Linked DNA regions of Homo sapiens. The protein of the gene in region 1 interacts with the protein of each later gene in a biochemical or structural test. Each region holds a gene or a part of one and is shown in the gene's direction. Other genes may lie near its edges.

What was found.
Region 2: the proteins of MYLIP (region 1) and CNPY2 form a complex in vitro, tested with the Homo sapiens proteins (2 studies listed by BioGRID).

What each region holds. Positions count from the first base shown.
Region 1 is NC_000006.12:16,126,774-16,130,522, forward strand, and holds the start of MYLIP (E3 ubiquitin-protein ligase MYLIP), read left to right. Parts: upstream 1-2,312; 5' UTR 2,313-2,549; coding exon 2,550-2,636; intron 2,637-3,749. UniProt on the Homo sapiens protein: E3 ubiquitin-protein ligase that mediates ubiquitination and subsequent proteasomal degradation of myosin regulatory light chain (MRLC), LDLR, VLDLR and LRP8. Activity depends on E2 enzymes of the UBE2D family.
Region 2 is NC_000012.12:56,309,341-56,313,089, reverse strand, and holds the end of CNPY2 (protein canopy homolog 2 isoform 1 precursor), read left to right. Parts: intron 1-590; exon of another isoform or gene 591-1,675; coding exon 1,676-1,879; intron 1,880-2,035; coding exon 2,036-2,132; intron 2,133-2,494; coding exon 2,495-2,538; 3' UTR 2,539-3,246; downstream 3,247-3,749. UniProt on the Homo sapiens protein: Positive regulator of neurite outgrowth by stabilizing myosin regulatory light chain (MRLC). It prevents MIR-mediated MRLC ubiquitination and its subsequent proteasomal degradation.

The sequences.
Region 1 (3,749 bases):
TTCATAAACAAAAATACTAACCAATATAACTGGTCTCCCTATTGCCCCTCGCCTCTTCTTCCTCTTCTGAAACTTCTAGCAATTAAGCATAAAGTAGACAAGGAATGAACCAAACGCTATCTTCCAGATAAATTCCCCAGATTATTAGTAAACTGGAATTCAGGGAATAGGCACTGCAGTTAATACAAGAAGGGACTGTTTCAGCCCACAATAGCATGAGGTGTATTTATAAGACAGAAAGATGTGAGAGTGCACCTGTTCCTCTGCAACAGTGGGGGTTAGGACTTGGACAGTTTACAGTTTTACTCGGTCAGCTTTAGCAAAGAACTGTGTGTGGGAGGATCCCTCCTTTTTTTTTAGCCTTGGGCTCTGATATCGTACCTGGTTGTTCGGAAATAAAGGCCACTAACAGATCCTTGGGACTCGTGAAGGGGGGTAGGGACAGGAAAAGTCATCATTAAGCAGTGAAGGCACTGAACTTATAGCTCCCCTTACATACACGGGGACATTCAAATGCTTTTGTGAACGTTATTATCTTTGCTGCGCTTCCCAACAATGCTGGGTGGAGACAGAGCAGATATTGCCATCTCCATTTTACTGTTGACAACACCAAGCTTCAGACAGATGAAGTAAGTTTTCTCTTTTTTTTTCTTTCGTTGTTTTCTTTTTGTTGTTGTTGTTGTTTAGAGACAGGGTCTTTTGCTCTGTCGCCTAGGCTGGAGTGCAGTAGGGGGATCACAGCACACTGCAGCCTCGAACTCCCAGGCTCAAGTGATCCTCCCACCTCAGCCTCCCATGTAGCTGAGACTACAGGCAGGCGCCACCACGCCTGGCTAATTTTTTGTATTTTGTGTAGAGATGGGGTTTCGCTGTGTTGCGAAACCGGGCTGGTCTCAAACTGCTGGGCTCAGGCGATCCTCCTGCCTCGGCCTCCAAAAGTGCTGGGATTACAGGTGTGAGCCATCGAGCTGGCCTGAAGTAAGTTTGCTAAGTTTCCACGGCTGAAACCCACATCATCTGGCTCCTATAAAGAAATCAAAAAGGTAGGCTATGTAATATATTGGCAAAGAGGAACAAGCGGTAAATGAGTGAAGGGTTGTAGACCTTTAATAGCTAATATTGCAGTAATGCCACCTGTTAGGTCAGGAGATGAGCACCTTACCTTAAGACGAGGACAACATCTGGTTGCCTGTGAGAAGGGACAGGCAGGGTATCAGGTGCTGCACAAATGTTTAATGAATGAGTGAGATAAGACAGGAGGTAGAATGAGCAACCTGAGAGAGGGCCTGGTACCCTGTAAGGCGTTTTGATTCAGCAGAACGAGTAAGGAGAAGCCCTTCCGGAGTGTAACACACCAGCACTAGACCAAGACACCTGGCTCACTGGTCAGCTGCAAAAACTTTCATACTCAGATTTTGTTTTTCTCAATGATGAGGTCTTAATAAGGAACAACAATTCTGCCTCCAAGCAACCCACTGTGGCTAATCCTGGTGGAAAAGAGTTTTCTTTTTCTCTTTTTTTTTTCTTTTTTCTTTTTCTTTTCTTTTTTTTTTTTTTTTTTTTTTTTTTTTTGAGACAGGGTTTTTTGCTCTTCTTGCCCAAGCTACAGTGCAGTGACACAATCTCAGCTCACTGCAACCTCCGCCTCCTGGGTTCAAGCGATTCTCCTGCCTCAGCCTCCCAGGTAGCTGGGATTACAGGTGCCCGCCACCACGCCTGGCTATTTTGTTTTTTTTTTTGTATTTTTAGTAGAGACGGGGGTTTCACCATGTTTGCCAGGCTGGTCTCGAATCTGACCTCAGGTGATCCACCCATCTCGGCCTCCCAAAGTGCTGGGATTACAGGCGTGAGCCACCATGCCCGGACGAGAACAGTTTTCTTTAGGCTTTGGGTTGCTCCTTTTCCTTTTTGCTTTCACAACCGAAATGCGTGCTCAGAGTGATCCAAGATATTTGAAGAACAGTGGCAGCTTGGAGGTGTTTAATCACCGTAAATTCGAGACGGCAGAAAGGCGTCCCCGCCTGGAGCCCCGGGCGATCGCTCACTCTGAGCAGCGTCGCCCAGCGGACAGAGGCGGCTGGTGTGTTCCGGGGTCTCCCTCCCTTCCCGCAGCACTCGGCGCCCGCAAGCTGCCACCTCCCGGGGCGGCCAGGGAAACTCAGCCGGCTCTGGGAGGCGGGGGCCGCGGTCGAGGGGCGCCGCTATTGGCTGATCGGGCGGGGGAGGAGGGGCAGGGAGGCCGTGATTGGCGGGGACCCGAGCTGAAGGGGGCGGGGCCGCTATATCAGCAGAGTCCCTGTCGCAGCGCAGGCAGTTGGGCTGCTGGAGTGCGGCGCCACCGCGGAGGACAGGGGCAGCTGGCGGGCAGCGGGTGAGGGGGTGGCGGGGACGCGAGTGGCGGCCGCGGGGCCCCGGACAAGGGTCCGCAGAGCTGCAGCCTTCGAGGGCCAGCCCTCTCCGAGTCCGGGGCTGGGTCCCACCAGTGACAAGGCGGCAGCCCCGCGCACACCAAAGAGAAGGCGGCTGTGGCGGCAGCGGCAGCCCCAGCCATGCTGTGTTATGTGACGAGGCCGGACGCGGTGCTGATGGAGGTGGAGGTGGAGGCGAAAGCCAACGGCGAGGACTGCCTCAACCAGGTGAGGGCGAGGGGCAAGAAGGGGCCCCGGCGGGTCCCGCGAGGCCGAGGGGCCTCGCAGCGACGCCTGGCACTCTGGCGCGCCCCCTACTAGGGGCCGGGAGGCACTGCGGCGGCAGCCGGGGGGAGCGCGTCCCCTCCTCTCCACGGGCGTGGGGCGCGCGGTCTCCTCCTGGCGCGCGTGGGGTGCGCGGAGAAAGCGCGCAGCGGGGGTCCCCAGCGCTGAGGGCCGGGCGCAGCCCGCAGCCGGGATCCACCCCCCAGCGCCCCATCATCCCCCCAACCCAGCACTTTCCCGGAAGAAGGCGGCTCCGCACACCTGCCGCAGGTATGTGCGTGATGCCGCCTGTCGGGTCCCCGCGGCGCCTGGCAGTGCCACCCGCGTGCCAGGATGGGATGGAGTGGCTCGAAGCAGTCTCGGGCCCCAGGGGTTCTTGGCAGACAAGCCGGGCCCTTGTCTCACGCTGCTTCTCAGGCTGCTGCTCTCAAATGCACCGTTCACCTGCATCTCCGGGTTTGCGGGGGACGGGAGGAATAGGTTTGGGTCATCTACTGCTCGGTTGTTTTTAAGCATGTGTTTCCTTAACAGTGAGGGAGATCGGTGCCAAATAGTGCAGAGGTGGTATGGCAGACAGCACATGTGATCCCAGGAAAACGCTGTGCCCTCAACCCCTCTAGCTCTGAGATGTTTGGAAAACCGCTTGTGAAGCTTAGCTGACACTTGTGGCGTGTTCCCTCAATGTGTTTGATTTTTGGAGTCCAAATGGTTAAAATTGCCCAGATAATAAGTCGCCAAAAATCAGCTGTGCAGAGTATGCTGGTGGAGGGAATTCCGGTGATTGGAATACGAAGGAAAATACCCTGTAGTTTCCCCTCCTCATCTTTTGGAAGGCTACTTTTGAGGACTCCTTTTTTCTCTATTGCAATTGGTCATGCCCTAGACGTTAAAAGGAATTATGAGCCTCCATACTAGAGCTCGTGGTTTGGTATCATTGGAGCCGTGGAACTTTGTTTTTCCAGTTTAGATCAGGAATTGTAACACCATTGAACTTTGTAAAAAGCACCAGCAATCTTAGCCTCAGGGAGCCGTTGGGTTTGCTTTGATACGTACCAT
Region 2 (3,749 bases), on another chromosome or scaffold:
CAGGTTGATGGGTGTAGCAAACCACCATGGCACATGTATACCTATGCAACAAACCTGCACGTTCTGCACATGTATCTCAGAACTTAAACTATAATTTAAAAAAAAATTATCTTCATCTATAGAAATTAGAAGTATAAGTTGATCAGGTTAATCAAAAAATTCTGTTTATAACTTGGAGCTAATGTTAACTGTCTTGTTTCTTAGAATTGTACAATGAGGTGCCGGGCACGGTGGTTCATGCCTGTAGTCCCAGCACTTTGGGAGGCTGAGGCGGGTGGATTACCTGAAGTTGGGAGTTTGAGACCAGCCTGACCAACATGGAGAAACCCCGTCTCTACTAAAAATACAAAATTAGCTGGGCGTGGTGGCACATGCCTGTAATCCCAACTACTCGGGAAGCTGAGGCAGGAGAATCACTTGAACCCGGGAGGTGGAGCTTGCGGTGAGCCGAGATCGCGCCATTGCACTCCAGCCTGGGCAACAAGAGTGAAACTCCATCTCAAAAAAAAAAAGAAAAAAAAAAAGAATTGTACAATGAGGTAAAATAAAATCATATAGTTGAAACTACTGCCAAGTACAGTGGCTCATACCTGTAATCCCAGCACTCTTGGAGGCCAAGGCAGGCAGATCACTTGAGCACAGGAGTTCGAGACCAGCCTGGGCAACATGGCAAGACCCCGTCTCTACAAAAAAAATATAAAAAAGTAGCTGGGTGTGGTGGTGTGCATCTGTGTGAGGCTGAGATGGGAGGATCACCTAAGCCTGGGAGATCCAAGCTGTAGTGAGCCTCAGTCATCACACCACTGCACTCCAGCCTGGGCAACGGAGTGAGGCCTGTCTCAAAAAAAAAAAAAAAAAAAAAAAAAAGAAGTACTTTGAAACTATCAAGTAAACCATATTAATTTAAAACCAGGCCGGGCGCGGTGGCTCATGCCTGTAATCCCAGCACCTGGGGAGGCCAAGGTGGGCGGATCACTAGGTCAGGAGATCGAGACCATCCTGGCTAGCACGGTGAAACCCGTCTCTACTAAAAATACAAAAAATTAGCTGGGCGTGGTGGTGGGCGCCTGTAGTCCCAGCTACCCGGGAGGCTGAGGCAGGAGAATGGTGTGAACCCTGGAGGCGGAGCTTGCACTGAGCCAAGATAGTGCCACTGCGTCCGGCCTGGGCGAAAGAGTGAGACTCCGTCTCAAAAAAATAAATAAATAAATAAAATAAAATAAATGAAAACCACACTAGGCCAGGCACAGTGGCTCACGTCTGTAATCCCAGCACTTTGGGATGCCGAGGCAGGCAGATCACCTGAGGTCTGGAGTTTGAGACCAGCCCGACCAACACAGAGAAACCCCATCTCTACTAAAAATACAAAAGTTAGCTGGGTGTGGTGGTGCATGCCTGTAGTCCCAGCTACTCAGGAGGCTGAGGCAGGAGAATCACTTGAACCCAGGAGGCAGAGGTTGCAATAAGCCGAGATGGCGCCAATGCACTCCAGCCTGGGCAACAAGAGCAAAACCCCATCTCAAAAAACAAACAAACAAACAAAACTAATTAAAATCAATTAGGGAAAGCTTTTTAGAATAGGTTGTTGGAGCTAGATTTGGAAAGAAAAGTAAGGATATAAATTACTAATGTACAGAGGTAGAAGAGAGTGACCCAAGGCTGAGGACATTTCTAGGTGCCTTATGCCCGCTCAGAGGCCCACCTCACAGAGCTGCTGGAGGAGATATGTGACCGGATGAAGGAGTATGGGGAACAGATTGATCCTTCCACCCATCGCAAGAACTACGTACGTGTAGTGGGCCGGAATGGAGAATCCAGTGAACTGGACCTACAAGGCATCCGAATCGACTCAGATATTAGCGGCACCCTCAAGTTTGCGGTGAGCTATGGGAATCGGTAGCTGGTTCTTGGACATTAAGGGGTTGTTGGAGAACCAATTAGAAAGTTAGGCTGATATCCTTGTCCTCCTCTTTGGAAGTGAAGGCAAGAGGCCTCTTATTGCCCTGTGTCACCCATTTCTCCCTTGGGTTGGCAGTGTGAGAGCATTGTGGAGGAATACGAGGATGAACTCATTGAATTCTTTTCCCGAGAGGCTGACAATGTTAAAGACAAACTTTGCAGTAAGCGAACAGGTAAGCTGCCCCCACTTTATCTCCTGTTCTAGTAGCTCTGTGGAACCTGACATTCCCTAACTCACCCATACACCCCCATCCCAGAAACCTCTGGTATTAGGTCAAGAGCTGTCTTCCATTTCCCTTGGCTTAGGGACTTGGGGTGTTCCTCCACATTTTCTGTCAGCTTTCAGAATTTGTGTCCCCTTGACCCTGAGATACAGGTGAGAGGACAGTGGGGATGTTTTATCATTTATAAGCATATATTCTGCAGAATGGTGGTTGGTGTGTGTTTGTGTCAGCTTGGTCTGGGAAATTTTCTTGATACTGGCAGATATCAGTATGAGAATGGCATATTCCTTTAAATTGTTTGCCATTTGCAGATCTTTGTGACCATGCCCTGCACATATCGCATGATGAGCTATGAACCACTGGAGCAGCCCACACTGGCTTGATGGATCACCCCCAGGAGGGGAAAATGGTGGCAATGCCTTTTATATATTATGTTTTTACTGAAATTAACTGAAAAAATATGAAACCAAAAGTACAAACTGTGTTGTCTTTTCATGCCTGGAATTGCCCTTACATTAAGCTTGAAGATAAGGAGTTATATAGACAGGAAAGATAATGGAGGAGAAAGAAGAGTTTTGGGATTGATACAGGATAAAGGTAGGAGAGGCCTGAACCTTTAATTCTTCTACCTTCTGAGATTCCACTCCACTCATAAACTAGATAAGCTTTCAGTCAGTGCCCACTCAATACCACGTCTTTAGAGTCTAATTGTGGAGAATAGAGGAACCTCCATGAGGAAGCAGGGGAACATAGTGTATGGTAGTGTAGAATTCTAGAAATCCCTTGTGTTCATGGCTGTTGAAACATAAAGTAAGACAGGGCTTGGTCTTGAAGGAAATAACGGATATGCATTATTCTTCCTTCCCTGCCCATCCAGATGGAGGGACCAGCAAGAACAGAGACAGGAAGGGGAAAATGGATGTGACCAACTCAGCTGAAAAGTAAGGGCTTTATCGGATAGGGACAGACGAGGTAAGGAAGGTTGTTTAATGAGAGGCCTTGCTTGCCAGCCTAAGCTTTTAAATTTGATGCCAGTGGCAACAATAAAGTGTATCTATCACTAGCCATTGTCAATCTGGACTATAAGTCTGTCCACAATTCTGTGTGTAGAGATTCCAGACTGGGGCATAGGGATGAAAACCTAAAGGATACCTTCTTTTGGGAAATTCTTTTTTTCTTTTTTTTTCTGAGATGGAGTCCCGCTCTGTCGCCTAGGCTGGAGTACAGTGGCGCGATCTCGGCTCACTACAAGCTCTGCCTCCCAGGTTCACGCCATTATCCTGACTCAGCCTCCCGAGTAGCTGGGACTACAGGCGCCCGCCACCACACCGGCTAATTTTTTTTTTTTTTTTTTTGTGAGACAGAGTCTCGCTCTATCGCCCAGGCTGGAGTACAGTGGCGCGATCTCGGCTTACTGCAAGCTTCGCCTCCCGGGTTCACACCATTCTCCTGCCTCAGCCTCCCAAGTAGCTGGGACTATAGGCACCCGCCACCACGCCCGGCTAATTTTTTGTATTTTTAGTAGAGACGGGGTTTCACCATGTTAGCCAGGATGGTCTCGATCTC